Linked DNA regions of Homo sapiens: regions 1, 2 and 4 are each reported to be linked to region 3. The links are microRNA targets in miRTarBase. Many come from high-throughput screens and were not tested one by one. Region 3 holds a microRNA gene; each other region holds the end of a gene's coding sequence. Distances are from middle to middle.
What was found. Region 3 holds the annotated microRNA hsa-miR-4739 (AAGGGAGGAGGAGCGGAGGGGCCCU, at 5,065-5,089, shown strand). A microRNA usually pairs through its seed, bases 2 to 8, with sites in the 3' UTR of a target mRNA and lowers its output. Matches are read on the target gene's strand: a 7mer-m8 pairs with bases 2 to 8, a 7mer-A1 pairs with bases 2 to 7 and ends in A, and an 8mer does both.

Region 1 (7,243 bases), not on the chromosome of region 3:
AAAAAAAAAATAGCTGGGCATGGTAGCGGGTGCCTGTAGTCCCAGCTACTCAGGAGGCTGAGGTAGGAGAATGGCATGAACCCGGGAGGCGGAGCTTCCAGTGAGCCGAGATCGCACCACTGCACTCCAGCCTGGGTGATAGAGCGAGACTTCATCTCAAAAAAAAAAAAAAAAAAAAAAAAGATAGGCTTAGGCTTGGCCTGACATGGTGGCTCACGCCTGTAACTCCAGTACTTTGGGAGGCCATGGCAGGAGAATCGCTTGAGCCCAGAAGTTTGAGACCAGCCTGGGGAATGAACAAGACACCATCTCTACCAATGAACAGATAAGCTTTTTTTAATCCAAAAAATAAGAGGTTGGCTATAATTCCTCACAGTTAATAGAATGGGTTTAATAGGAAAGGAAAGAAGGTCATGGCTAGAAAGTAGACACAAATATGTAACCACGGGAGCCAGTGCGTGAGAGCCGTGCTCCTGTGATGGCGTCTACTTTGCCCAGCTGTGGCAGCTCTGGCAAAATGAGGAACCAGTCAGCTGGGTGATTCTTATTATGAGGAAAGAGGTGCAAACCAACATAGCCTTTAATTAGGAATACTGGGGGACGTAATATTCAACAGTCCACAGCAGCCCTGAGCTATTGCATGGATGGCCCTGGAGCCAGCAGGGGATCCTGCCGGTGTCTGCGGTGCTGTCAGAGCCCTCAGGGTCCCTGCGGCAGCCTCTCCCACCCTCACTTGCCCTGTCTTCTTTTCCAGGTCACCCTGCACACAGGATTGGAAGTGCCGACTAACCTGGGGCGGCCAAAGCTGTCAGGCAATTAGCCCCGCTCCAGCTCGGCACTGTGCCTGTGACAGTGACATTCACAGGCAAAACGCCCACCATTCTCACTAAGCTCAAATAACCCACAAAAGCAGGATATGCAAATCATGGGTGCAACCTGGCAGCGTGGAGTGTCATAGAAACACATTTTCTTGGGGACGCAGGGAATGGGTCCACGGGCCATGCTCACAGCTGCCACTGTCAGTGGCAAAGGAAGGTACGTGTGTCACCCTTATTCCACCCAGACATTACGAACACTCCCCAAGAAGGACCTTTCTCAAGGGAGTCAGCATTCGGGCTTCATGTCTATGTTTCCTGCCATCTGTTTTCAAAGCTTGTCTTTTTTTGGAGGGAGAGGAAGGTAGACTTTGAGACTGGCCTCCTGAGAGCGGCAGTCAGGAGCTGCGCTGTAATCCCACGCCCCGGGTGTTGGCCCTCCGTGGGGACCTTGCCTCCTCAGAGTCCCGAGATTGCAGATTCTCATCATGCTGAGAAAGTTATCTTTTAGCTTCTTGGTCCTAGAGTCTTTAGTAGCACCTGCCACTTGCAGACCCAATGCAGGATTGATAGAAAGGGACATTAATCATTCATGCTTGACTTTTGCCTCTCTCACTGAAGTGTTAGAACCTTTTAAAATGGCTTCCTTTATTAATCAGCCAATTGTGTTCTCTCTCTCTCTTCCTCCATCCTTCATTTCTTCTCCCTCCCTCCTTCTCTTTCTCTCTTCTTCTCTCTCTCCTTCCTTCCCTCCTTTGCTCTCTCTTTCTTCCTTTCCTCCTTCTCTCTTACTTTCCTCCATCCCTGCCTCTTTCTTCCCTCTTTCGCTCTCTTTCCCTCCCTCCTTCTCTCTCTCTCTCACACACACACAGGCATGACAGTCTCCTAAAATTAATTCACTCAGTTCTTAGTTCTTAAATCCACGTGAAAACACAAGAATTTTAACAACTATGTCATAGGTCTTCGCCTGGTGATGGCTCCTTTCTGAAACTGGCAGCCCAAGAAGTTAACTGAAAATGCATCCAGATTGCTCTTCTGAGCTGAACCACTCTCAGACTCATAAGCATTTAAAATGGGAGACCCTGGGAAAGCCTGTTCTAGTCAGTCCACCCTATTGTCATTATGAAAGCATCATGAACACAAGTGGCCCCTGTGGCAGGCCGGGACGGCTCTGCCCTGATGCAGTGGGCGGGATCTCTGGGGAAGGCAGGAAATAGAAGGGCAGTATCAGGTACCTTGTCTCCCAGCTTCCCACTGTGAGACTGGGTGTGCCGAGTCTGACCTGCCAGGGCAGGACTCTGGAAACACCAGGCTTCTCCCTTGAGATCCACATTGATTCATCCACACCTCTCAGAGACAGCTCATGGCAGGGGTTTTGAGCCTGCCAGGCTCTTGTTCCCAGGGAACCCTTCCTCTCCTCCCTCCTCTCATCTTCCCAGTCACCTGCCACCTCCAGCTCCACCTGGTAGTAACATTTCTCTCTCCTTTTAAAAAGAATATATTTTGTCAAGCATTTTATTTCTGAGGCTGAGAAGTGACTTGTCAATTTGCTGGACTGGATTTTTATAAAATTCGCCCATTCACCAGCACCAACTGTGCGTCCTTGGTTCTGCCTTCCTGTTCAGACACCGCGCCTGCTTTCTGAGTAACTGCCTGCCGGAGCCATGCAGGTACCCCCCCTCCACTCAGCAGGCCCGACAATCCTACCTCAAAGCTCATGCTCTTGGTCTGCAAGGCTGCTTGGTCCGCTGTCTCTGCAGATGTGGCCGGCAAGGCCAGCTGCCCCGTCTCCAGGAGCTGCTCGGTGCTGTGTTGCAGTCTCTGCTGCGGAGCCTGGGAGCTATCTGCTTCATGGAAGTCTAGGTCTTGCCTCTTCCTTGTCATCTCACCAAGCGGTTTCTGGGTCTCCTCCTCCCATCCCAGAGCCCTGTCCAGAGCTCTTGGTGGTGACACACAAGACCTGGGACCCTGTGTCCTTGCCCGCACCTCTGCCTCTGTCTCCCATATCCCTGCAGCTTCATCCTTAGCCATAGCTCTGGGTGGCCTTTGCTTGGAGCATGGAGACGATCCCTAAAGATTGAGGATGAAGAGGAGCCACCACTTTCCTGGGGCCAAGGAAGCCATCAGCTTTGGGAAGTGTCTAGCTCTCTTCTGAAAAAAAAACAGGCCTACACCCTGCCCCCAGAATGAGAGTGGGCTAGGCAGGGCTGCCTGGTGACAGCAGCTTCTCACAGGGGAGCCCTGGGGAAGGCTGTGGAGCCTCCACCATCACCACAGCCCAGGTCACCAGGTGGCCCCAGCTCTGCAGAAGAATCGCCCATCATTGGAGCACAAGTTGCCTGGGGCTACCCTGAACCTAACCCCTTTGAGGGAGCAGCATCCAGGTCAGGAGAGAAGTGGAAAGTGCAGGAGGGTAATGCCCTCAAATCCGGTGGCCTCTTTCAGAAAAAAGTTCCCTGAAGTCCAGAGAGGTGCAGCCAGGACTCCCTCCTCCCCACTGCCACCCTGAGCTTGGGGGCTGGGATTCTCCCTTTTCTGACTCCTCCAGGAGCCCAGAAGCAATACGGCCGATGCCAGGGACAGCATCCAGCTCTCCTTCACAGACACCTCTCCTGTCTTCAGCACAAAACACCTTCAATGTTCTGACTTCAAAGAGAACGACAGGTCCGTGCCACACACTTGTGTTTTTGAGGGATCAGAAAAGTGAAGAAGGAACTTATCAATTCCTCATGGCCAGGAAGGTCCCGGGTTTCAGAGTAGAAATGACAGACAGGTCATGGAATTCTCATCCACCATCGAATTCCATAACACGTTACATCATGGTGGCACATTTGTACATACATATAAATGATATCAAGATGAGGCTTTTGTTGGGCTGGCTGAGGAGTAACTTGGTGTAAATCTATCAAGCAGTTTCAGTGAAAAAGGAATTCAAAGTAGTTTAAAAATGTCGAGTTCCATTGCATTGTAAATAGTGCCTCTGTAATGTGGTTCTGCAGTTGTTCTTTGCTAGTGAGCAAGCTTGGTCAAAGTGTATGCCTTTTCCTTTTAAAATTAATCTCTTCCGAAAATATCCACTAGCACCTCACTGCATACATAGCATCCCAGCTCCTAATTCAAAGCAGGGGAAGGTATTTCCCCAAAGCCTGCTTTTCCTCTCTCTGTTCTCCTTGGGAAAATAATGATTCCAATTAAAGAGGACACCAGTAATACTGACCCACAAGGTAACTGACCTAAACACTATAAAACTGTATATATTTCCAGGCTGCATCTTCAGCCTGATATGTACTTTGTAGTTGCAACAGCGCCCTAGGTGCCCTATGGCCCACCAAGTTTGAGGAGGGTGGTGCTTTCCGGATTGAGCCTGGGCAGGCTCTGTGGAGCTCACCAAGAGAGCTGGGGGCAGGCCCACCCTCCTCTTTGCGCCCTTTCTCTCCCTCTTGGTGCCCCTGCCCTCCGCCCCACCACAGCACTCTCAGGAAAGGATCAGAATGCAGGATCTTTGTGTATTTCTTCCAGGGATATTTGCATTTAAGCCTTAATTCTCATTGCAAGCGAAAGGCTTGGTCCCCCTGGGAAGGCGGGTTTCGGCACCGGTGGGCAGGTGGTTCAGTGTCAAGGAGGCTGCTGCTGGTCCCATGGCCACCTGCTGGCTTTGAGGTAGTGAGGGAGGGTCAATCCTTAGGGGGAGTCAACATGTGAATGCTAAAGAACACTGCTGCACAGCCCGTGGGGTGGCGCCAGGGTTTCTCAACCTCTACTGACATTTTGCGATAGGTTCTGTATGCCGTAGGATGTTTAGCAACATCCCTGGTCTCTACCCATCATCTGCCAGTAGCAACCCCCAAGTTAGGTGTGACAACCAAAAGTATCTGTCGACATTGCTAGGTATCTCCTGGGGGCCTCCACAAGTTGAGAACCACCAGGTTATGCCAGTGGTTTGTCATGCATGGATCTGTAGAGGGACTGTGGCGCTCCGGCTGCTTTGTTCCATAGAAAGCCTGTATGTGACAAAGCTGCCAGCCTTTATCTTGATACCCAAGCCCAGGATTTTCCATGTGTCTTCAGGGGGCAGGTAGGGGAAAATGGGGTGAGCCACCTCCAACAGATGCCAACCTGTTGGGTCTTGAATTTTCACTCACTGAAGATGCCCCCTGCCCGCTCCCCACTTCCTAGAAAGCAAAACTCGTTACCTTTGTTTTCCTTGGCCACATTTTACTGGAAGCAACAGGAACTTCTTAATGGGTTTGTGGCCCTCAATTGGTTTTTAAAAAAATCTAACAGATCTTATTGGCAAATATTCAAGATGGTGATGCTGGAAAATTTCAGGACTTTTCTTTTGCAAGTGAGCCGGTAGCTGTGTTTGTTGACCACATTCTTTGGCAGTTCCTCCCAGAAGATCAAAGGATCCTGCAGCTTTAACCTAATATCTAGGCTGTAAAAATATGAGGGCAGGTTTCGGGCAGGATGTATTGATCAGACACCAAGTTCAGCCCTCGGTTACTTCCCTCTTTTAACCTGGCTTTAATAGTGATTCATGGTATGAGTGGGGGCCAATCTCTTATCCTTTCTGTGCCTCAGTATCCCCACCTGAAATGAGACTAGTCATACTAACCTACCTCCTCTGATGTATTGTGAGGATTATACAATAACATTTTTAAAGAAAAAAAGTGCAGTCTTTCATCTCTGGCATCTAAGCTAATGATTCCCATTCAGTGACTCAAACCTGTGGGGGGCGTTCCAGTGTTCTCTGACCAGTGTCTTCCATCCAAGCCTCCTTGTGACCAGGGCAAGGAGCTGCCTGGCCTCCAGTGGGTAAAATAGACCTTTAAGACAGGTTTCCTATGACCATAGAAAGTAACACCCCATATGTTTCCATTCCCGGCGAGGCCTGTTTGAATGGCGCTCTGTGTGAGTGCTATGAACAGGCTACCTGTCAGCAGTCTCACTGCGAGGCCTCAAGGCCTCTGTGAGCAGAAGCCCCTTTAAACCAAGGAAGGACACTAACCCAGGCCTCTGCCTTCTTTGTTACCTAAGTTCTGGTATCTAAGGGGTCTCTCATCTCACAGCTTGCCTCCTTTGTTTCGAGGGGTCTCTGCAGTGTGAATGGGTTTGAAATCCAGTGTGGATAGCACGAAGAGATGCAACTGAGCCGAAGTTTTGAAGGCTGGTTGGGCTAGTGGGTCATCATGTCACTTTCAGATGACTGATAACCGCTGGGACTGCTGGGGCTTCACCAGCACGAGCTATGCAGGTTGGGGGAGGCCCTGGCTTTTTCAATGATTGACGTTGACATCAGTCAGGAGCTGGGAGTTGAGACCTCCAGGGAAGTCTCGTCCGGATCCATCGCTCTTCTCTCAAGGAGCACAGTCCTGGGAAAGGCCTAGGGACCTGTGGGCCGGTGATGCGGGCACTGCAGACCAGGCCAGGCCCTCGGGTAAAGCTCTGAGGAGAGGCCAAAACCAGGCTTCAGGTTCGGGAAGGTGACTGCTTGCAACTGCAGTAGCAGGAACATGTCAGGTGCTTACTGGGTGAGACCCAGCCGGGGAAGCCTCTCCAACTCCTCCTAGCCCTGGAAACCAGACACCCAGAGCCCCAGGCTTTCTCGGCACCCAGAAGAAGTGGGGAGCGGGCAAAGCAGAAAACATTCAATGCATGATGTAGGATTGCTGCGTTGGCACTAAGCTGTTGTATTAAGCATGAGAGGTGTTTGTTTAACGTTGGCAAAGGGATTTAACAAGAAACAAAAAGCTTCGCGTCCTTGTTTTGACCGTCGACAGAAGTCCAATTTTCTTGCCTTTCTTTATCCCCATTTCTCCTCCCTCCCCTTCCCCCATCACATCCACTTTCGGTCACTCGTTGTTGGTATTTGGTGGCAGCTCTTGGTCCTATTGCTGTGGATGTTCCACTGAAAACACGGGGGGTAGCGGGGAGTGGTAAGGAAAGCAACTTTTTTCTAATTTTTGTATTGGTATCCACAAGCGTTTGTATTTTTTGAATTGCAAACACTGTGTTTTCTGGTCTTTGGGGGTTAGTTGAACTTTCTGTATTACCTTTTGGAAAACCTGAGTTTTACCACAGTCTTAAGCAGATTTGAAATAAATTCTTTTGACACTGCCAACAACAGAAAGACAAGATGTGGTCTGTAATTCCTGCTCCGTGGTCAGGTCTGCCTTTTTCCCAACTGGCCCTGACTGCCCAGCAGACAGGGCAGAGGCTACAGGAGGGGAGGCCACACGGTCTCTTCCCCCAGTGGGGCTGGGCGTTACTAAGTAGCAGGGTCAATGTGGTTCTGCTTCGCGTGCCCAGGAAATCTCAGGGTGATTACATATGACTCTAAACTAGGCTGGGTGCTGTGGCTCACACCTGTAATCCCAGAACTTTGGGAGGCCAAGGCAGGCAGATCACTTGAGGCCAGGAGTTTGAGA
Region 2 (7,243 bases), 3.6 Mb from region 3:
CCGGCCAGAGATGCCTCGTGAGGGGAGGCCACTGGGAGACACGGCTGGGGAGGCCCACAGGGTCCGGAGGACGACATGCCTTCCCTACCCCAGGGAGCCAGGGGACCCTGAGAGTGGAGGCAGCCGAGGCCCAAGGCAGGAGCGCCCTAGCCTCACTGGAGGGAGGGCACTGGAGGGAGGAGCTCATCTGTGGGCAGGAGATGAAGAGGACTCCCAGGGGAGAGGCGAGATGGCCTGGAGGAGCCTGAGCACAGGCTATTCTAGGAGTCAGATACTCACCAACGCTCGCATTCTCTCATCTAGTCCTCACAGCAAGCCCGTGAGGTCAGTACGCATGTCCCATCTGATGGGTGAGAAAACCAAGGCCCACAGTAAACTGATGTGCCCAAGGTCACACTGCTGTAAACTGGGAGTGGAGCCCAGGTTAGCGTGACTACAGATGGAGTCACAACACGGCCAGGAAGTGAGCCCACAGGAGGCTGTGGAGGATTGGATCCACAGCACAAGGGAAAGAGAAGCACCAAGAATGGGTTTCCAGACAGGCGCTGGCACTCCTCATGTGGGGGCAGCAGCAGATTTGGGGAGCGGATGCGTTTAGTGATGGTATCTGTGGGACCCCGAGGCTCTTGGGCTGGTGTCTGCTGGGCTGATGGCACCAGCTAGTAGCAAACCTCAACAGCTGCGTAGGTGCAGGAGGAGAGGAAAACGGCAGGTGACGGGGACTGGAGCCTCACACTGTCCTCCCTCCAGGCAGCCTTCCATCCCAGGAACCCTGCTGGGTGGCCAGTCCTTTCCTGCCCCGCCTGGGCCCCCACAGAAAACATTAACACTCGGCCAGAACGAACAGTCTTCTCACTTCCCCCCACCTCTTCCTGCCCCAATGAAAATAGCTCAGCAAGGCCCAATTTCCTTTTCCTGTCTATTGTAACATATAGGCAAACTTTAAAACCAAGTAATTAAAATACAAAAGTGGATCCCAGGGTAAGTTCGCAAAACAAGGAACATCTTTCATGTCCCTCCCTGTCCGGGAGCCACAGTGGCAGTGACTGTACCTAGCCCAGGGGGCAGGAGCAGGCTCTGCACCTGTCAGCACCTGCTTCTCTCCGTTCTCACACACGAGTGCTGTGGCTCGCACCGTCATCGGAGTCTCAGGTGACACGCATCCTGCTCCTTCCGTGCCGGCTCCTGGGCTGCCCTGCTGGAGACACCATCTGGATTTGGCCAAAGGTCTGGCTCCTGTAATGTTCATTTTCTCTTCCCCAGGTGCCTGGCAGGCTGATGACAATGCCGTCAGTCGGAATGCCCAGCGCCGGCGCTTGTCATCCAGCAGCCTGGAGGACTCTGAGACGAGGCCCTGTGTGTGGGGCCCTTTGGCTGTCTGAGCCCCAGCCTCTGCACTTGGGCTCCCCTCCTGCCCTGCATTCCATCCATCCTCACTCAGCTGCTGCCTACTGGGCATCCTCAGCAAGATGCTGGAGACTTTTTACCCTCCTGTGACAGCTGTTACAACCTGTAACCACAATCCCTCACCTCTCAGAGGGAACTGGAACCCTCCTTTCTCCGTGTGACCTAAAGCCACTCAATGAACTGCAGCTCACGAGACCTTTTGCAGGGACTCTGGAATGTCCTCACGGTATATTGATGTTCAGGTGGAGCTGGGGTCCATGGGCTAATTTCTTACACATCTTTTTTCTCCTTAGGGGGTAGAACAAGAAGGCTTAGAGTTTGGCAGCTTTGTTACAAACATCCCTCTGGCATTTCCTGGTCTCTGGCACATCATAACCAATTGGAAACCTGCAGTTTGGGGTAGGGCTGGAGGATCGCTCCTGTGGAAAGGGAGAGCCATACTGCACGGACGTAGCGTTTCCCTCTACAAGCACTAGGAGCACCTTTCTCAAGGACAAGAAATGGTAGCAACCAAAAGGTTGGTTGAAGGAAACAATCCTTCCTTCTGGTGGCAGAGCCAGTCTTCTGGGCCTCACATGCCTGTGCGGTTAAGAAGGAGCTCTTGGCCGGGCGCGGTGGCTCACGCCTGTAATCCCAGCACTTTGGGAGGCCGAGGCGGGTGGATCATGAGATCAGGAGATCGAGACCATCCTGGCTAACACGGCGAAACCCCGTCTCTACTAAAAATACAAAAAATTAGCTGGGCATGGTTGCAGGCGCCTGTAGTCCCAGCTACTTGGGAGGCTGAGGCAGGAGAATGGCCTGAACCCGGGAGGCGGAGCTTGCAGTGAGCCGAGATCGCGCCAATGCACTCCAGCCTGGGCGACAGAGAAAAAAAAAAAAAAAGAAGGAGCCCTTGAATCTGAGAATCCCCCAGTTAAGATGATTTCCCTTAAGGAGCATTTCTCCTGATCAGGTGCATTCAGGGAGGCCTGCAACTCCATCCTAAGGTGACATTTCAAGAAACACATGTGTTGACCACCTCTGTGTGCCAAGCACTGGGTGAGGAGTGGTCGTATATTACCATAATTCATCCTCACTCAATTGGGAGGTGGCATTCTTGTCCCTGTTGCCCCCATCTCTACCCCCTTTTGTTAATGGTTGAGAGAAATGTGGACCAGTGATTCTCAGTTTGGTGCCCAGGTCCCCAAAGGAAGTGATGGAGAGCCTTGAGCTAAGTTCAGGCAGCAGCATGTGGCCAGCAGCAGTGTGCTGGGAGCAGAGGTTGGAATCAGGGCTCAGGGCCTTCACTTCAAGGGCCCTCCCCAGCTACTCGGGAGGCTGAGGCAGGAGAATCGCTTGAACTCAGGAGGTGGAGGTTGCGGTGAGCCAAGATCGTGCCACTGCACTCCAGCCTGGGCTACAAGATTGAAAAGATCGAAACTCTGTCTCAAACAAAAAAAAAAAAATTCAAGGCTGTTTCCAAGGCAGCCTCAAAAAGAGCCTGGTGCCCAGGGGGTCCTTCGTTTCTGTGTGGCTGCAGAGGCCAGGAGTGCAGTGACTGTCTCACTGCCTAGTGGTTGTGGCTCACATCCTGCCCTGATGGAGAGGGGGGCCTGTCGTCCAACCCTCTCTGAAAAACTGCAGTAGACTTTACCATTTCAGGCCCCACCTAATGTTCTTTCCTTCCTTCCCCCTACATTCTTCCCGCCCCTTTCATAGTTAAGATGCATAAGCTGAGCAATAACCCCACTTCCTGATTTCCCTGAAATATGAGCCCAGAAGCAGCAGGTGACAGGGAGCTTCCCTTACCCTGGGGTGGTGGCACACAGACCACCTCCTGTCCTGTCCCCTGCAGGTAGTATTCACAGTGTGGTGTTACCTGGGAGGAGGGAGGAAGGAGCTGAGATGAAGGAGATTCAGGTAAACAGTAGCCACAGTGGCCAGGACCCCCTTCCTGAGGATCCCTGTCCTTCCTCGCAGCAGGTGCTTAGTCCTCTCCTAGGGAGAAGCACGGAAAGATTCCTCAAGGCCTCAGTCCCATGTCCAAGGCATACCTAGGTTAGAAATGTCCTTTACTTGTTTCTCAGTTACTATTTCTCCTCTTCCTCCCTCCCCCTGCCTTCTCTTGGCTGTCATTTAGCTCTCTGGCCCACAGAAATACTCCATCCAAGGAGCTGGTCCTCAGTCAGCCTGATGAGGACAGGTCAGTGGCCAACCCTTTTGCCCCAGTCCTTCATCTGGAGACAGTCACATAGTCACGTCAACAGTTCACCCAAAGAGAAGAGGTGGGGCCTGGCTTCTCCCACAGGGCACAGCCTAACTATGGAGACCCAGGGCTCCTTCCTGCTGCACTAGGCCTGTGCTCTCCCTATTGCCTTCAGGTGGTGTGATCCCGGCTTCCTCACAGAGCCCTTTTTTCCTTCTGCCCAGCTCCATCCCACCAGAGTTTCTACCCCCGCTGAGGCATCTCCTGGGCACAGACCACCACACTCTAAGCCGGCTGGCCTGGGAGTTAGGGTCCTGCCCACCTCACCTGGGAGTTGGGGTCCTGCCCACCTGGAGTTTAGCACGCTGGTCGCTCACTTTGCTTTGGTCTGCACACCTGGTGTGTGCATGTGTATACTGCTTGTGCCATCTGTGTACCCCTCTCCCTGGAGTACACTTGTGGTCACACTACAGTGGGGACATCAAGAATGCAATATTTATGGATTGCTGCATGATTCTTAAAAATGAATAAAACTGTTTACAAGGGAAGGAGAGCTAACTGCAAAGTGAGCTTATCTGTGAAAGTTTCTGTCTGACTTTCGCCAGCACTCTTTAATACTTTTACTCAAGAGGATCTGGAGTTGGAGGAGTGGGAGAGGCAAGGGCTAGGGAAAGGCATGTTGGCGGGGGAGTGATGCGCCATAGCCGGGCCTTCTTCATGGTCTGGGCACCAGCCTCCCCGACCCCGGCTCTCCAGCTCCTGGGCAGAGGCGGGGTAATCAACCCAGCCCCCACCACTGCCTCTGCAGCCGCCTTAAACCGGAGAACGTCCAACCCTGCAGCTCCTCAATAATTAAAGAGCAGGAAAGCTGGTGACAGGAGGGAGGCCAGGGGAAGGGAGGAGGAAGGGACACAGTCCCCAGAGTCCCTCTACTCTTAATCCCTGTGACTTAAAGGTTGGTGAAATTAATTGGGCAAATGACCCCGCTAGGAGAATTTGACAAGTCCATGACTTCAGAGTTTTACCCACGGGCTCTGCTTCATCAGCTGTCTCCAGAGGAGTGAGTGCGCTTCTGCAGAAGCCTCTGGAATGTCAGCTTCCTGGAACCTCGAGGATACGGGTGGGGAAGGAGCTGCTTACTGGGACACACTGGATTACCCTACCCCCTTGGTGTGTCTGCCGCCTCTGTGGATGTAAGCGGCAGGTGGCATCGGAAAGTCAGACCTGCCTGGGACACCAGAGAAAGACCCTAAGAGTCGGGGGAGAGGGAAAGGCTGCAGAAACATGAGAAAGTGCCACTCGTAGCGGAGAGGAAAGAAAACCTCAAGGATACGGTTCCCGAGCCTGAGCCCGCTCCCAGCCTTAGCCCCCCAACCCCAGGCTCCGTCCCAGGAGCAGTCGACGCCTCAAAGCGTACGGGACAGGAAGGGGGTGGGGGCGAGAGTCTTGGTTCCCCAGAACGAACGGATCCATAGCGGTTCCCGGTGCCGCAGGCCGCGCGCTTCTCCGACCCCAGCGCGGGGCCCTCGGGCGGGAATGAGCCGAGCCGGGACTTAGCGGCGGGTAGGGGGTTGGGTGGCGCGGGAGAGGGCGGCAGAAGGAGGGAGTTCGAAGAGAGTTGCCGCCAGGGAGAGTGGCAAGTGCCCGCGGTCTCCTTGGAGACGTGCTGGCCAATGGCAGAGGCGGAAGCTGTTTATGGGGGCGGAGCGTCGCCATGGCAGCAGGAGAAGCCTTTGGAGCGGCTACTTAATGCCGGTCCCGGGGCCGCGGTAGCTCAGAGAAGCGCCGTCGGGCGGGGGGGCGGCAAGAGGCGCTGGCAGGGCCCCCGAGCTGGGGGCAGAGAGCCGCAGGGGGTGGGAGCAACTTCTTCCAGAACCTTCCTCTGGCCCGGGCTGCGCTCTGAGCCAGGTAAGGGATGGGGAGGGCTGCAGGCCAGGGGGAAGGGTGGGCAACGGTACCAACCCGCTCTCTCATTCGTCCTTAACGGAAGTGGTGGGCCCAGGGACTGACATCGGAGAAGTCTGGGGGAAACTCGCCTCCTGCCCCCCGTTACTGTTCCGTCCCCTTCCTTCCCAATGATCCCCTATCATAATATTCCTTTTCAAGGATCAGAGGACCTCCACCGCCCCCGCCCCGTCGTACCGCCCTCCCAAACTTCTCGCCCCACTTCCATTTGTTGCGAGGAGGAAGGGGGTCCTGATTTCCTGCTCTTCGGGAGAAAAGGATAGCCTCGGATGCCCCTACCCTCTTCATTTGGCTAATAAAACCTCGAAGAGGAAAGGAAGAGGGAGGCAGATCTGATGGGGGTGGGACCCCAGGGCCTTGCTTCTGTTTCCCATACCTCGGCACTAAAAGATCCTCCCCAGCTGCGGGGATGATGTTAGAGAGGGCGTCCCCGTACACACACTGTCCCCTCGGGGGTGGGGTAGTGCTCAGCTCCCACCGTGGTCCTCGCAGGCACCACATACTTATTCGGAGGAGGCGCCCCCGGGGTCGCGAGATGGAAGCGCGCGTCCGGGAGGCCGTGTAACGGGAGCTGCGGGACTCAGCGGGCCAGAGAGCGCGGCGGGCCACCCCCGGCTCAGCCCGTGGATGCTGACCGCCCCCTCGGAGAGTCCCCGCAGACATGGCGGAGAGCTGGCTGCGCCTCTCGGGAGCCGGGCCGGCGGAGGAGGCCGGGCCGGAGGGCGGCCTGGAGGAGCCCGACGCCCTGGATGACAGCCTGACCAGCCTGCAGTGGCTGCAGGAATTCTCCATTCTCAACGCCAAGGCCCCCGCCCTGCCCCCGGGGGGCACCGACCCCCACGGCTACCACCAGGTGCCAGGTTCAGCGGCGCCCGGGTCCCCCCTGGCGGCCGACCCCGCCTGCCTGGGGCAGCCACACACGCCGGGCAAGCCCACGTCGTCGTGCACGTCGCGGAGCGCGCCCCCGGGGCTGCAGGCCCCACCCCCCGACGACGTGGACTACGCCACCAATCCGCACGTGAAGCCTCCCTACTCGTATGCCACGCTCATCTGCATGGCCATGCAGGCCAGCAAGGCCACCAAGATCACCCTGTCGGCCATCTACAAGTGGATCACGGACAACTTCTGCTACTTCCGCCACGCAGATCCCACCTGGCAGGTAGAGGAGGCACGGGCGGCGGCCGCTCCCTCCCCATTCCCTCCTCGCTCCCCACGCTGCACTGGATTCATATCCCAAATCTGCAGGCCAAGTAGGCTCTGCGGTGCGGCCAGCGCCCCAGAAGGGAGCCCTGCAAAGGAGCCCAGTTCTTGCAACTGCCCCTCCTTTGACTTCCAGAGAGAGAGAGAGAGAGAAGGGAGAATGTCCAGAGGTGGAGGGCTTTAGGGGTGCAGAGGCTGAGATTCAAGGGGAAATAACCTGCCATTCATCCAGCAGGCCCAGGCCAAAGACCAGGGCTAGACTCTGCGTGGACAGAATCTCCTTGGGGAGAGCGATGAACTGAAGGCGCATTCTTGTCCCAAGTCCTAGAATTCCTAGACACTGCCCTGCCCCGGGATGGTTTGTCGGGGCCGGGAGTCAGAAACGGAAACTGGAACGTGGCCTCCCTGCCAGGCTCTACGTCCTGCCCTTTTGCAGTTGGCTTGGGGAGGGTGGAATGGAAGGGGTGCCTTAGCATGTGAGGG
Region 3 (7,243 bases):
ACATACTTTATCGATAATCGCCACACTTGTTTCATGCATTGCTGTTGTCTTTCTCTTTGCTTTTCCCCTGTGGCTGAAGCACTTTCCATCCTGTAGCAAAAACGTTCTGAAATTTTCTTCCTATGAACTTCAGGTTGCAAGGCGCCAAGTACGGGAAACTCTGGAACACACTTGCGGTTCCCTTAGGGCAATGTTCAAATTAACAGTCATTCCTTGGCACCCGCTCAGGCCCCATCCAGAATCACATTCCCCTGATTGTTTGCTTACGTCCATCAGATGGAACACACAGGTTCCTAACAAGGCCCAAAGTTTAAGTTTTGTGGTGGCGCCTCTTGAACCTCTCTTACTCTAGATCAGGCGCCGCCCCCGACCCCCATTGCTCCTCCCACCACTTGTGATTTGTTGCAGAAACCAGATCAGCTGTCCTGCAAATGTGTGGCCTATCGCGCTGCTGTTTGCCTCTCTGTGGTGTCGCCTCGCCCCGTGTCTCCTGCAAATGGAAGCTGTGCCGCAGAAACGCCCTTAGATTCAGGCTCATCTTTCTTTGCCAGAAGCCTTCGTGGGCAGAGCTGTGAGAGCCACATGGAAGCACCTGTAATGCTAAGTGTGCCCTGTGGGTCCAGGTGGCCATCGCCCGGACCCACCCTCTGATGCTAAGTGTGCCCCGTGGGTCCAGGTGGCCATCGCCCGGGCCCACCCTGAGATGCTAAGTGTGCCCCGTGGGTCCAGGTGGCCACAGCCTGGGCCCACCCTGTGATGCTAAGTGTGCCCCGTGGGTCCAGGTGGTCATAGCCCGGATCCACCCTGTGATGCCCTAGTTTTGTCATTACTGATCTCATCCATGACCCTTGCGAGAAATACTTATGTCATGAGAGGTGGCAAAATCATGGTTTCTCTCATGATCTCATCTCCTTCACAATGAGTAGCTGAAATTGTTCTGTTAAAAACAACAACGACAAAAAAGGCTGGGCACGGTGGCTCACGCTTGTAATCCCAGAGCTTTTGTGGGCCAAGGTGAGAGAGGCCAGGAGCTTGAATCCAGCCTGGGCAACATGGCAAGACCCCATCTCTACAAAAAAATAAAACATTAGCCAGGTGTGGTGGTGCGCGCCCGTAGTCTCAGCTACTCGGGGGCTGAGGCAGAAGGATCCTTTGAGCCCAAGAGGTTAAGGCTGCAGTGAGCTGTGATTACACCACTGCACTTCAGCCTGGGCGATGGAGCGAGACCCTGTCTCTTAAATAAAACAACCAAACAGGCTGGGTGTGGTGGCTCACACCTGTAATCCCAGCACTTTGAGAGGCCGAGGTGGGTGGATCACCTGAGGTCGGGAGTTTGAGACCAGCCTGGCCAACATGGTGAAACCCCAACTCTACTAAAAATACAAAAAATTAGCAGGGCCTGGTTGCGGGCGCCTGTAATCCCAGCTACTCAGGAGTCTGAGGCAGGAGAATCACTTGAACCCAGGAGACAGAGGCTGCAGTGAGCCGAGGTTGTGCCATTGCACTCCAGCCTGGGCAATAGAGCAAGACTCCATCTCAAAAAAAAGAAACCAAACAAACAAAAACCAAAAATACTTGCTGTTGTCCACTAGAGTTATTGAGTTATCCTGAAATATAGTTTAAAAGGGAAATTCTTAATTCTTTTCTTTTAATTGACAATGTTCTGAATAGAGTTGGAGGCTTGTTTTTCCAGTGGATTACCGATGGGTTTTGGTTTGCTTTCTCTCTTTAAATCTATTTATAGCTTTTGTGTATTCATTGTGTATTCAGCAATCATACACAATGAGTACACAAAAAATCACACAACCAATACACAAAAGGTAAAAGTAGATTTAAAAAGTGAGACACCAAGGCTTGATTTTAGGCTCAATTTGTCCCCTCTTTGGCCAAAGATTTCTAATTTTTTTCCCCTCAAAACTGGTAGGCCAGGGTGCCAGGGTGCCGTCCCATCAGTGGTGGGAGGAAAGGGTAGTTGCCCCAGACAGTGGGTGAATGCCAGGGTGCCAGTGTCAGGGAGGGGAGGGGCTGGTGGGTGAATGCTAGGGTGCCAGTGTCAGGGACGGAGGGGCTGGTGGGTGAATGCCAGGGTGCCAGCATCAGGGAGGGGAGGGGCTGGTGGGTGAATGCCAGGGTGCCAGTGTCAGGGACGGAGGGGCTGGTGGGTGAATGCCAGGGTGCCAGCGTCAGGGAGGGGAGGGGCTGGTGGGTGAATGCCAGGGTGCCAGCATCAGGGAGGGGAGGGGCTGGTGGGTGAATGTCAGGGTGCCAGTGTCAGGGAGGGGAGGGGCTGGTGGGTGAATGCCAGGGTGCCAGCATCAGGGAGGGGAGGGGCTGGTGGGTGAATGCCAGGGTGCCAGCATCAGGGAGGGGAGGGGCTGGTGGGTGAATGCCAGGGTGCCAGCGTCAGGGACGGAGGGGCTGGTGGGTGAATGCCAGGGTGCCAGTGTCAGGGAGGGGAGGGGCTGGTGAGTGAATGCCAGGGTGCCAGCATCAGGGAGGGGAGGGGCTGGTGGGTGAATGCCAGGGTGCCAGCGTCAGGGACGGAGGGGCTTGTGGGTGAATGCCAGGGTGCCAGCATCAGGGAGGGGAGGGGCTGGTGGGTGAATGCCAGGGTGCCAGCATTAGGGAGGGGAGGGGCTGGTGGGTGAATGCCAGGGTGCCAGCGTCAGGGACGGAGGGGCTGGTGGGTGAATGCCAGAATGCCAGTGTCAGGGAGGGAGGGGCTTGTCGAAGAGAAACTTTCTTCAGGGCCATTGATTTCCCTGCCTTGTTTGAAGTGCCTGGATTGGGCTCTCTGAAACCAACAACATCTTATTAGAAGACAAGGACTTCTTCTCTTTTCTTTCTTTCTTTCTTTTTTTTTTTTTTTGAGACGGAGTTTCACTCTTGTTGCCCAGGCTGGAGTGCAATGGTGTGATCTCGGCTCACTGCAACTTCTGCCTCCCAGGTTCAAGTGGTTCTCCTGCCTCAGCCTCCCGAGTACCTGGGATTACAGGCATGCGCCACCATGCCTGGCTAATTTTTGTATTTTTTAGTAGAGATGGGGTTTCTCCATGTTGGTCAGGCTGGTCTCGAACTCCCGACCTCAGGTAATCCTCCCGCCTCGGCCTCCCAAAGTATTAGGATTACAGGCGTGAGCTACTGCTCCCGGCCTTTTCTTTCTTTAGAGACAGGGTCTCTCTCTGTCACCCTGACTGGAGTGCAGTGGCATGATCACGACTCACTGCAGCTTCGACCTCCCGGGTTCAAGCGATCCTCCCATCTCAGTGTCCTGAGTATCTGGGACCACCACGCCTCACTAATTTTTGTGTTTTTTTTTTTTTTTTTGTAGAGATGAGGTCTCGCCATATTGCCCAGGCCTGGCAGGTGTTTCTGATAGTCACAAAGCCCCTGCTACTGGGGAAAGAGAAAGGAAGGCCCAGCTAAGACCCAATTAAGAAAATCCCAGAACCAAGAACGAATTGACTGTTCGGCTTTGGTAATCTCCAACGTGTCCACCAGGTGGTGCTGTCCAGCCACGAATCTCCCAGCTTTGATCTCGGGCTTTGGCCGAGGGCACCTCCAGGGCTGGGGTCTCTCATCGTGTTGTCCCCACTTTATTCCAACGTCCACCCCAGGCCTGGGGGAGCCCAGGGAGGACCGAGTCTCCTGGGCCCCGCAGGGCGCACAGAGGTGAGTTTGGTGGTGCCGTCCCGACCTCGACAAGCATCCCAGCGAAGCAGGCTGAGCGCCCGGCTGGCTCCCTCAGGTCCCCTCTTCCGGGCCTTCTCCGTCCTGTTGATTTGGGTGTTTTAATGCAGGAAAGTAGGACACTGGTTGTCACCTGCCTGCTCCTACAAGGAAAATGCATGTTTGTGTGGTTATCCGTGGCCACCCCCACCAGGGCCTGCGGGGGGCCCAGTGCAGTGGAGGTGGGGAGGGGACTCGTGGGCTCCAGGATCCGTGGAGAGTGAGTGTCAGCGGGAGGGCGTCCCCCGACCTTGGTCAATGGAAGCTGCTCTTCCTGGGGGTCCTGCGGGAGGCCCGTGATGGGGGTGGGGGAGGAGGGGTAAACACCGGGCCCTGATTGGCCGCCTGTCCTTGGGTCTTTGCTGGTCCTAAGAGGGAACGGGGAGCACAGCTGGGGTCACAGCCTCAGCTGGGACTCCTGCCCTCCAGCACCTCAGCATCCTCCCTGCGGGTGCTCTCCTGGGGGCTGCTCAGGGCAGGTGGCAAGTAGGGGGCTGTGGGACCAGAGACAGGGGGTGGACATGCCCAGGGCCTGCCCTTTTGGCCTGCCGTGGAGACCCACCCAGGAGCACCTGGGGGCTGACCCTCCCCTGCAGAGAGCAGGGTGAATCCCAGCCCTGCCCTCACCTAACAGCCGGGTTCGAGGGGAGCGTAATTTATAATGAACCCCACTCCTCCCCCAACACCCGCCACAGGCAGGAGCCAGCCTCTCTCCTGACACCAAAGTCATGCTCCTGACCCTGCAGGCCACAGGGTGAGGAGGACCCAGAGGGGCAGCAGGGTGGGGGCGTTTCATAAGCCAGGGAGAGCTGCCCCTGTACATCCTCAGGCCTCACAGTGGAGTGAGGGGCGGGGGTCGCCTGCGTCCTCCACAGGAGCTCCTGTCATTCCACCTCCGGGGGTGCACTTGCCGACTTACCCCAGCCCTGGACTCACAGGCTGTGCTGCTGTCTGCCCAGGGCCTGGCGATTGCTGCGCCCATGATGGGTCCCACAGGCAGGCCCTGCCCTCCCATCGCTGGCTTCTGAGCAGGGGCTTTGGGGCTGCTGGACCTCAGAGGCAGAGCCGGGGCTTCTGGTGTCCCTATGTCTTGGATGCCTGGTGTCCTGAGGCCAGCGCCCCCCAGCTTGCACTGGGACCGTCCATGGAAGCAACTCCTCTTTCATCTCAGGCACTGGGGGTCCCAGGGCCAGGGAAGGGGCTGCGCAGCACCTCAGGAGCCCAGAAGAGCTGCCCGCCAGGGAGGAGGAGCTGGGGGGAGCAGAGGCCTGGACCAGCTGGGATGTTCCCATCGGCGTGTCCCTCCCGCCCAGGCCACGTGGGCAGGGGAGGAAGAAGGGAGGAGGAGCGGAGGGGCCCTTGTCTTCCCAGAGCCTCTCCCTTCCTCCCCTCCCCCTCCCTCTGCTCATCTCATCATGAGACAGCTGGCAAGGGCCTTCGGCTGCCCTGGAGTGCCCCTGCCCTGGCCAAGCTCTTGCCGCCCCCTTCTTCTGGAGGTGCCAGATGGGGCGGGCCCAAGGCAGTGGAGGTCTGGGCCCTGGCTCCAGCTCTGTCTCCTCCTGAGGGCCCTGGAGGAGCCAGGAGGAGGGCCTAGCAGGGCCGGGCAGATGGTGGGCCGGGAGGAGGGGCTGCCTGGGTAGACGGACCGACTGGCAAGACAGATGGTGGACCAGGCAGGGGTCCGGAGCCCGCCCCATCTGCTCCAGTCCCTGGTGGGACTTTTCTTGTCCACCTCGGGCTGAACTGGGATGGACTGTGTGGGTGGCTGTGGCCCAGGCCGGATTCTGTCACACTGGGTCCTCTGTCCCTGGGGCATGGCCAGCCGGGTGCTCATCTGGGGTCTTGAAGCCTCCTCCTGGCAGCTGGCACGTGGCTGGAGGTCATCATGTTTCGGGGGCTCCTGAGGGTCTGGGGGCCATGACTGAGCAGAGCCTGGGGCGCGTCCCGGGAATGAAGCCACCGCTGCAGATGAGGGGCTTTGTAGGTGGGTGGGTGACTGTAGCCCCTGGAGGGGCTGCCTGGGGCCCAACGCTGATAGGGCCCGGGACAGGAAGATGCTTAGTCACGTGTTTGCGCTGCAGGTGCACCCCCAGCCCAGGCGACATCAACGGCCAGCCCCACACACGTGAGGAGGGATTGTGGGCCCAGGGGCGCTCAGGATGGGGCCGGGCTGCTTCTCAGAAGAGGGGACGCTGAGCCCAAGCAGGCTGCACTCCTGCTTGGACGGAAGGTGGATGGGTGGGGTGGGAAGGGGTGGGAAACGCCCAGCCCTGATGGGCTTGCGGGAGCCTGCGGGAGGGCCTTGCGTCTAGCTAAGGCGTGGGGAGCACCTCCCGTGGCCCCGTCCTTAGACCCCCGAGGGGTGGGGCGCTGCGGGTGGATCCTGGGGGTCTGAGGGTGCCAGGAGGATTTCTCATGTTGAGTTCTAGTGTTGATGATGCTAATCCAAAAAATACCTGAACCAAAAACCAATTCCAAAGAAAATCCCGTGCAGCAATGGCTTTCGATCGGCTGCGGCTTCTGTGGAACAGCTTCGGTGTCTTTGGCGTTTGGTGTTTTCGGACAGGCTCGGAAGTCACGCTCCCCAGGCTCAGGAACCCCTCCTTTAAAGGAGGTCGGTCCGTTTCCTCAAGTCACAGGAGCAGACGCAGGGTGGGGGCGTGGGGCGTCATGGGGAACAGCAGGCGGGGTGCCAGGGTCAATGTTAAGGTCCAGGTCACTCTCCAAGGAGCCCGCTGAGGGCTCAGGGCTCAGGGCTCAGGTGGCCCTCCTGCCCGCCCCACCTCTTGCTCCCTCCAGCAATGTCTTCCTGCTGCCAGCTCTGGGAGCCGGAACGCTGCCTTCAAGGCTGGGCCCATCACGAGGACAGCTGCGCACTGTCCCCTGCTCACTTCCTGTCAGTCTCTTCCTGATTTCCTCCTTACACTCAGTTCTCTTGTCCCCTTGGCCTCTTAGTGGCTGGGTGACCTTGGGTAAGTCACTCACCGTGTCTGAGCTTCGGTTCCTTCAGCTGGGAAAAGGCAACAGAGAAGTTCCCACCTCATAGGGTCCTGCAGCAATTCACTGGGTCAAAGCCCTCAGAACCCTCTTCAGCTCAGAGTGAGCGCCTCCGGAGTGCTCGCTGCCATTATTGTTATTATTATTATTGTTATTATTATTGCTATTTTTGAGACAGGGTCTTGCTTCATCACCCAGGCTGGAGTGCGGCGGCACGATCCCAGCTCACCACAGCCTCAACCTTCCAGCCTCAGTGTTCCTCCCACCTCAGCCTCCCCAGTAGCTGGGACCACAGGTGCGCCACCACACCCGCCTAATTTTTGTATGTTTTTGTAGAGACAGGATTTTGCCATGTTGCCCAGGCTGGTCTCAAGCTCCTGAGCTCAAGTGACACATCTGCCTCAGCCTCCCAAAGTGCTGGGATTACAGGTGTGAGCCACCGTGCCCAGCCATTGCTGTTGTTTTAACTTTATTTTTAAAATTTTATTTTATCCAGGTGAAATTCTCATAATATAAA
Region 4 (7,243 bases), not on the chromosome of region 3:
TGTCTCTAAAAACAGGGTAGAAAAGGAACACACACAAATAAATCCTTCCCAATATAGACAGTGCAGTAGTTGAAATCACCATCTTCTGTTTTTGCCTTTCAATGTAATGTAACTTTTTTTTTTTTTGAGACAGTCTCACTCTATTGCCCAGGCTGGAGTGCAGTGGCGTGATCTTGGCTCACTGCAACCTCCACCTCCCAGGTTCACGCGACTCTCCCGCCTCAGCCTCCTGAGTAGCTGGGATTAGAGGGGTGCACCACTATGCCTGCCTAATTTCTTTGTATTTTAGTAAAGGGGTTCTCCATGTTAGCCAGGCTGGTCTCAAACTCCTGACCTCAAGTGATCTGCTCACCCTGGCCTCCCAAAGTGCTGGGATTACAGGCATGAGCCATCATGCCCAGCCCTAATGTAACGTAACCTTTGCACACGTCCCTGTTGCGTGCTCGTTTTTTATGGCTGCACGCAGCCACGGCAGTCCTCAGTCCTCTTTCCTCTGCCTCGAGGCCCAGCTTTGCCCATTATGAGTGCCTTCTCCATACTGGTAAGGTGGACACCTGGTCTTGGTGATGTAGGTGTTGACACTCAGGAGATAAAGAGCCTGGTGGAAGTTCGCCAGGGGTCTTTTCTGTCCCCCACGTAGTCCCTCATGAGCTCCTTGGTGGGCACAGCTATGCCTTAGACTGCTTCTGGGTGTTCCCACCCCATCACCTCTGCCCCACTCAGGCAGAACCCGTTAGGCTAGGATGCCCAGTAAGTTTGAGATAAAATGGAGTTGGCTGCAGGTAGGAGTTACAGGAAGAGGCACGAGCACCAGGCGTCCCTGTGCCAAAATACACACAGGAGGAAGGCTGCCTGGCTTCAGCTGGCTTGTCCCTAGGGAGGCTGTGCGCCTCATTTTCTAGCTGGCAGCAGTCCTCGATCACCCAGGAGTGGAGCTCCCTGCCATCCTTGGGCTTCCCCTCATGCCAGGCACTGGGCTGTGGACATAATGAAAGCCCTGGAAATGTGGGTACAGTTTGCGGAGCTTCCAGGGGGCATCCTCGTGGTGGGGTGTCTGGGGGGCTCTGACTGCTCTCTGCTCTCATCCCTGCCCAGCTCCCCCTCCGGGGCTCCGCGGGACACTGGATCTCCAGGTTATCCGCGTGCGGATGGAGGAGCCCCCAGCGGTCAGCCTCCTGCAAGACTGGTCCAGGCACCCCCAGGGCACCAAGCGTGTGGGAGCAGGTGACACCTCAGACTGGCCCACAGTTCTGTCAGAATCCAGCACCACTGTGGCAGGGAAGCCGGAAAAAGGGAATGGAGTGTAAATTCTTGCTTTCCTGGGGAGGGAGGGAGGGATGAGGCAGCGTCCCCCAGTGGCTTATAACTCAGAGCTGCCTGGCTCACCCACCTGGTGGAGAGAGTAGAAACAGGTGCCAGGGCAGGAGGGGGCTGGGGCAGCATCCACTGTTATTTCGGGGCACTGGAAAGTGTCTGTTCCTGGCCAGGCCTGAGGTCGGCGAGGGTGGCTGAGGCTGTTGTGCAGTAGGGCACTGGGCCTGTGGAGAACACCTACCCCAGTCCTTCGCTGACCCCCACCTCTGTTTGTCCCCCATGACCTCCTCCCACCCTCCCCCTGCTCCCCACCATTCTCCCTTGGCACAGTGCCTTACACAAGAGTGGTCATAAGGGGGTTTGAACTGAGTCCCACTACCTCGGGGGACACCTCTCCTCCCCACTTGTTCAGGCTTCTAAACCAGGAGGCCTCCATTACCTCTTCCTGTCCCACCCCTGCAGAGGCCTGAAGCTGGGCCTGGGCACCCCATTCACTCCCGTTCTCATTTACATCTGTTTTCCTGTTGTATATATCACCTTTGTTGACAATAAATTATTTTTTTTTATTAAGAGTTCCGTCTGGGCCATCATTGGGGGAGAGGGTTTGCTAGCAGGATACCTGGCCACCTAGAGCAACCCTGAGGGGCAGGAGGGTTGGAAGATGGTCCTGGGGGGAGCCAGGGAGCCACCTCTCCTGAAGGTGGGACAGCACCAGGGCAGGCCTCTGTGGAGCCCAGGAACGAGGGCTGACTTGTGCTATCAGTCACCTGTGGGCGTCTCACCCCCTCCCTTCCTCTCTGCTCTGGAAAGGGGGTCAGAAACAATTTTCTTTAACATTGTACCTTCTGGCTCACCTGGTAGGCCTCTGCCCAAAAGAGGTCACTGTAGAAGCCCAGGGGTGCTCACAACCAGGGAGCTGGGAATTAGCCTGAGCTTGCTTGCTTGCTTGCTTGCTTTTTCTTTTCTTCTTTTTTTTTTTTTTTTTTTTTTTTTGAGACAGAGTTTCATTCTTGCTGCCCAGGCTGGAGTGCAGTGGCGCGATCTCGGCTCACTGCAACCTCCACCTCCTGGGTTCAAGTGATTCTCCTGCCTCAGCCTCCCTAGTAGCTGGGATTACAGGCACCCACCACCATGCCCATGCCCAGCTAATTTTTTGTATTTTTAGTAGAGACAGAGTTTCACTATGATGGTCAGGCTGGCCTCGAACTCCTGACCTCGGGCGACCCACCTGCCTCAGCCTCCCAAAGTGCTGGGATTACAGGCGTGAGCCACCACGCCCGGCTTATCCTGAGCTTTCTAAAGTGAAATGGCGGTAACCAGCTTGCAGGTAGAAAGATGCCTCTCCTCCCTTTCCGTATGATGGTGAGGGGCACAGGGGTCCTAAACTCAGCCCCGCCTTTTCCAGCCCTACAGGCCTGCACCCTCAGCTGTCCACCTTCATCCCCCCCAACCCTTGGCTTAATTAAACCCAAACACTTGCTGGTTTCCCCTATTCCCTGGATCATGAGGAGGCCACTTTTGGTCTCTTCACCGGATTCCTTACCTTCCTAAACTAAACCAACAGGGGCCAGATCTGTGCGTGGTTTTCCCTTTGGTGAGATGGAGCACACAGGCAGCCCCTTCTCAAACCCCAGCTGTACTGTCCTGTTTAGAGCCCATGGCAGGTGTGGTAAGCAGGACTGTATACCTCTGCACATGCTGACAAATGTGCACATAGGAGAAGTGGGGGCACAGGTGGGACTTGGAGGGCAGCTATTCCTGTAGGACGCTGACATTGGCACATTTTTTTTTTTTTTTTTGAGTTGGAGTCTTGCTCTGTCACCCAGGCTGCGATCTTGGCTCACTGCAACCTCTGCTTCCCAGGTTCAAGCGATTCTCCTGCCTCAGCCTCCCGAGTAGCTGGGATTACAGGCGTGCACCACCATGCCTGGCTAATTTTTGTATTTTTTGGTAGAGATGGGGTTTTCGTCATGTTGGCCAGGCTGGTCTCAAACTCCTGACCTCAGGTGATCCACCCACCTCGACCTCGCAAAGTGCTGGGATTACAGGCGTGAGCCACTGTGCCCGGCCAACACTGCCAGATTTTGAGACTAACCAGGAAGTTCATCTCGGGCAGGCAGGGTCTGGGCCTGGGCAGCGTGTGCTGTGTGCTCACCTGATGGGGTGTCACCATGTGCCAAGCCAGGTATGAGGGATCTCACGACTTGGTGGGCTCCTGGGACATGATCCCTTCTCCCCATCTGATAAGCTCAGGAGGAGCCTAGAAATATACAGGGTCTTTGTCTAGGGGACATTAAAAGACAGGTGTGGTGGACAGAAGGCAGTGGCCAAGGCTTCAGGATGCCTTGTATCTAGTGTGGCTCCCCCACTGCATGATGGCAGGCAGGCAGGCCGGCCACGGAACTCCCATGTCTCAAACACCATTATCCACAGATTGGCAAAACTTGTATCCTACCTGATAGGAGGGAATAAATAATGCTAAAAATCTGGTTCTGCAAGCACAAATACTGCAAATGGTTTTCTCTCATCCTTTCAATCCTGTGACTTGTGTTTACATTTATGCCAATGTGCTTTTAAAACAACATGGCTGTGTTGCTGGGTGTTTACACTTGAGAAAACGTATGTAAAAGTTTGTTGTAAAATTGTGAAGCCAAATGCCCCTTTGCTGTTCTATGATTAATGGCTTGGCCTTCTAGACTGTGAGCTCCTGGGCAGGGACCAGGTTGTATTGACTTTGTTTTCCAAGTGTCCTGCCTGGGGCCTGGCACATAGTAGGTGCTCAATAAATGTTTCTCGAGTGCCCTCTGAGTGTGTATTCCTGTGTGACATTTTTCTAGTGCATGTTGGTCCCTGGAGTGTGGTTCTCAGCACAGGGTGGTTGCTACAGTGACTGTGCAGGGTGGGAACTTCATCCCCACATTGTGGCCAATAGGGGTCTCCCCAGCCTCAGCCAGGGCCCTGGGGACTATGTGAGTGTGTGTGGCCAGCAGCTGTGTGTGGCACCTCTGGGCTTCCAGGAAAGAGTTGGAGAAAGTGGGGCTGAGGATATGACTCCAGCCCAGGCTGGAAGGACCTTACTGACGGATTGCCCAGGGCTTTCCTACTCCACACCGGCTTGGAGTCCGTGACGCTGGTCCTGCATCCTGGTGCAACACCAGGGAAGCTCTGCACGAATGTCGGTGACTCTCAGGGCTGGTGGTGGCACCTTCATCCATGTGGTGCTGTGGCCCAACCATGTGTTTGGTTGAAGAAGTTGGGGAAGAGGGTGCCGCTGCCCCTGACTGCTGAGCCACACACCCATTTCCTGACTTCCCAGACCTCCTTGGCTCTCTGAAGCCAGCCACCTCCTGCCCTCCCAGCTGCCTTCCATGGGATCCAGGTGTGGGAGATCTTTTTGGATACCTAACAAGGAAAAACTTTCTACATTCCCAGTACTTCTGACACCAATGTTAGTGGGGAGGGGGGCGCCCACATCAATTCTCCGACTCTCCAGACACCAGCCAGCTGTTCTAAAATTCAGTTCTGACACTCACTACCCAGAGTTAGCACGGTCCCTGCAGGTGAAGGGCTCAGTCCCAGCAGACTGCCCCTGCTTCAGATACCAGTTCTAGGTCCCAGCTTGTCACCTGTACTTCTGACCAGCCCAAATTTGGAAGTTCCCACAACCCCCTCCTCAGTTTTGATAATTTGCTGTAATGGCTCACAAAAATCACAGAAACAGGCCGGGCGCGGTGACTTACGCCTGTAATCCCAGCACTGTGGGAGGCCGAGGCGGGTGGATCAACTGAGATCAGGAGTTCGAGACCAGCCTGGCCAACATGGCAAAACCCCGTCTCTACTGAAAATACAACAATTAGCTGGGCGTGGTTGCGGGTACCTGTAATCCCAGCTACTCTAGAAGCTGAGGCAGGAGAATCACTTCAAGTCAGGAGGTGGAAGTTGCAGTGAGCAGAGATCACGCCATTGCCCTCCAACCTGGGTGACAGAATGAGACCCTGTCAAAAAAAAAAAAAAATTAGGGAAACATTTACTTACATTTACTTGTTTATAAAGGATGTTACATAGGATATAAACAAACAGGTGATGAGGTACTGAGGGCGAGGTTCAGAAGGGTTCCAAGCACAGGAGCTTCTGTCCTAGTGGAGTTGGAGTGAGCCACCCTCCTGGCATGTGGATGGGGTGCTGTCCCTGACCTGGAACCTCCCAAACCCCATTATTTAGGGTTTTTATAGAGGCTTCATTAGGCACGATTGATTAAATCATTGGCCACTGGTGATTGGCTCAATCTCCAGCCCCTCTTCCCTCCCCAAGGTCTTGGGTAGGGATGAAAGTTGCAATCCCCTAATCACGTGGTTGGTTTCTCTGGCCACCAGCCCCATCCTCCAAGAGTCATCTCATTAGCGTGAACTCAGGTGTGGTGAAAAGAGACTCATTATGAATAACAAAAGATGCTCCTCTCTCCCCATCACTCAGGAAATTCCAAGAGTTTTAGTTCTGGACCAGAAACCCGGATGAAGACCAGATATATATGTCTCTTTTTTTTCTTTTTGAGTCGTAATCTTGCTCTGTCGCCCACGCTGGAGTGCAATGGCATGATCTTTGGCTCACTGCAAGCTCCACCTCCTGGGTTCCAGTGATTCTCCTGCTTCAGCTTCCTGAGTAGCTGGGATTACAGGCACCTACCACCACGCCCAGCTAATTTTTGTATTTTTAGTAGAGACGGGGGTGGGGGGGTTTCACCATATTGGCCAGGCTGTTCTCTTGGCCAGACTGGTCTCGAACTCCTGACCTCGTGATAACTCCTGCCTCGGCCTCCCATAGTTCTGGGATTACAGGCGTGAGCCACCTGCGCCCAGGTGTCTTTTTTTTTTTTTTTTTTTTTTTTTTTTTTTTGAGACAGGGTCTCGCTCTTGAGGCCCAGGCTGGATTGCAGTGGCACAATCTCGGCTCACTGCAACCTCCACCTCCAGGGTTCAAGCAATTCTCCCGCCTCAGCCTCCCAAGTAGCTGGGATTACAGGTGCTTGCCACCACCATGCCCAGCTAATTTTTTGTATTTTTAGTAGAGATGGGGTTTCACTGTGTTGCCAAGGCTGGTCTTGAATTCCTGACCTCAGGTGATCCACCCGCCTCGGCCTCCCAAAGTGCTGGGATTACAAGTGTGAGCCACCAAGCCTGGCCGATATATATGTCTTTTTATATCACAATGCTGGTAATCCTCTCTTTCTTGGGGACAAAGCCAGTCTGAGACAAGGGAACAGTCACCCCTGCCCTCCTTGAAGAGAAACTGGAGCATGTGGGAGTGTGAATGGGAATGGGGGACACTGGCTGGGCCCCTGCCGCACCCCAGTGGTGGCACTGGTCTGGTCCAGGCCTTGAGGCTTTCTAGCAGATGCTCCTGCAATCTGAGCTTCCTGTTTCTCTGCAGAAAATGCGGCAGTCACCCCCACCTCCACCCCACACACAGCTGGGCTGCTGTGTGGCTCAAATGAGACTCTGCATTTGGGGCCCTTTGTAAACTGTAAAATCCTGCACACCCCTAAGGTGTGGTAGAAGATGGGGGCTGGGATGGGAGAGGGTCTCTAATGGGCTTGCAGACCCTCTCTGCCATCGGAGTCTCTTGGGAGGGGGGCACCCTACTGAGGCTGCTTGCAGGTGCAGGGACAGGGAAGGGACTGCAACACCTCCTGGGGTGTCTGCCTTCCTACCTCCCTGGAGCCAGGTGCCTCAGCCCAGAGCCATCATGCCACCAAATTTGCTCAGTCCCTTTCTCCCCTAGAGAGAACACCCTCATTCTCAGGACAAATGTACCAGCGTCCAGGAAGGAAGAGGAGCCAGCCTTTGGGTTCCCAACACCAATGTCAATGGCTTGGATCTCCTCCAGCCCCACATCTGGTGGGGGTGGGCAGAGGAAGCAGGAAAAGCAGGTG

Region 1: miRTarBase lists TRIM67 as a target of hsa-miR-4739. Seed matches in the 3' UTR shown: 7mer-m8 at 1,521-1,527, 7mer-m8 at 1,652-1,658, 7mer-m8 at 2,232-2,238 and 7mer-m8 at 6,633-6,639.
Region 2: miRTarBase lists RNF157 as a target of hsa-miR-4739. Seed matches in the 3' UTR shown: 7mer-m8 at 3,494-3,500 and 7mer-A1 at 3,754-3,760.
Region 4: miRTarBase lists SPINDOC as a target of hsa-miR-4739. The part of its 3' UTR that is shown has no 7-base or 8-base seed match.

The regions. Positions count from the first base shown.
Region 1 is chr1:231,214,621-231,221,863 of GRCh38, forward strand. It overlaps TRIM67 (tripartite motif containing 67), which reads left to right. Exons shown (of 10, transcript NM_001004342.5): 10 at 755-6,945. The coding sequence ends at 820. Among named protein-coding and RNA genes, the nearest start is that of FSAF1, 23 kb to the right of the region's middle. RefSeq lists enhancers at 341-842, 756-865, 2,557-3,056, 6,207-6,707 and a silencer at 1,966-2,025.
Region 2 is chr17:76,139,374-76,146,616 of GRCh38, reverse strand. RNF157 (ring finger protein 157) reads left to right here. Exons shown (of 19, transcript NM_052916.3): 19 at 1,264-4,143. The coding sequence ends at 1,382. FOXJ1 (forkhead box J1) reads left to right here and starts at 5,372. Exons shown (of 3, transcript NM_001454.4): 1 at 5,372-5,503; 2 at 6,053-6,719. The coding sequence starts at 6,222. RNF157-AS1 (RNF157 antisense RNA 1) reads right to left here and starts at 6,061. Exons shown (of 8, transcript NR_040017.1): 1 at 5,937-6,061; 2 at 3,269-3,387; 3 at 1,531-1,695; 4 at 1,053-1,195; 5 at 280-343. RefSeq lists enhancers at 940-1,119, 688-1,235, 1,210-1,269, 1,236-1,784, 6,946-7,243 and silencers at 5,377-5,536, 6,215-6,284, 6,345-6,534.
Region 3 is chr17:79,705,062-79,712,304 of GRCh38, reverse strand. It overlaps MIR4739 (microRNA 4739), which reads left to right and starts at 5,056; the gene lies at 5,056-5,129. It overlaps LINC02078 (long intergenic non-protein coding RNA 2078), which reads right to left and starts at 5,039. Exons shown (of 2, transcript NR_109783.1): 1 at 4,649-5,039; 2 at 1-3,833. RefSeq lists enhancers at 617-1,166, 3,954-4,575, 4,576-5,197.
Region 4 is chr11:63,825,833-63,833,075 of GRCh38, forward strand. It overlaps SPINDOC (spindlin interactor and repressor of chromatin binding), which reads left to right. Exons shown (of 6, transcript NM_138471.3): 6 at 1,096-1,884. The coding sequence ends at 1,307. Among named protein-coding and RNA genes, the nearest start is that of MARK2, 9.7 kb to the right of the region's middle. RefSeq lists a silencer at 5,489-5,706 and an enhancer at 6,515-7,243.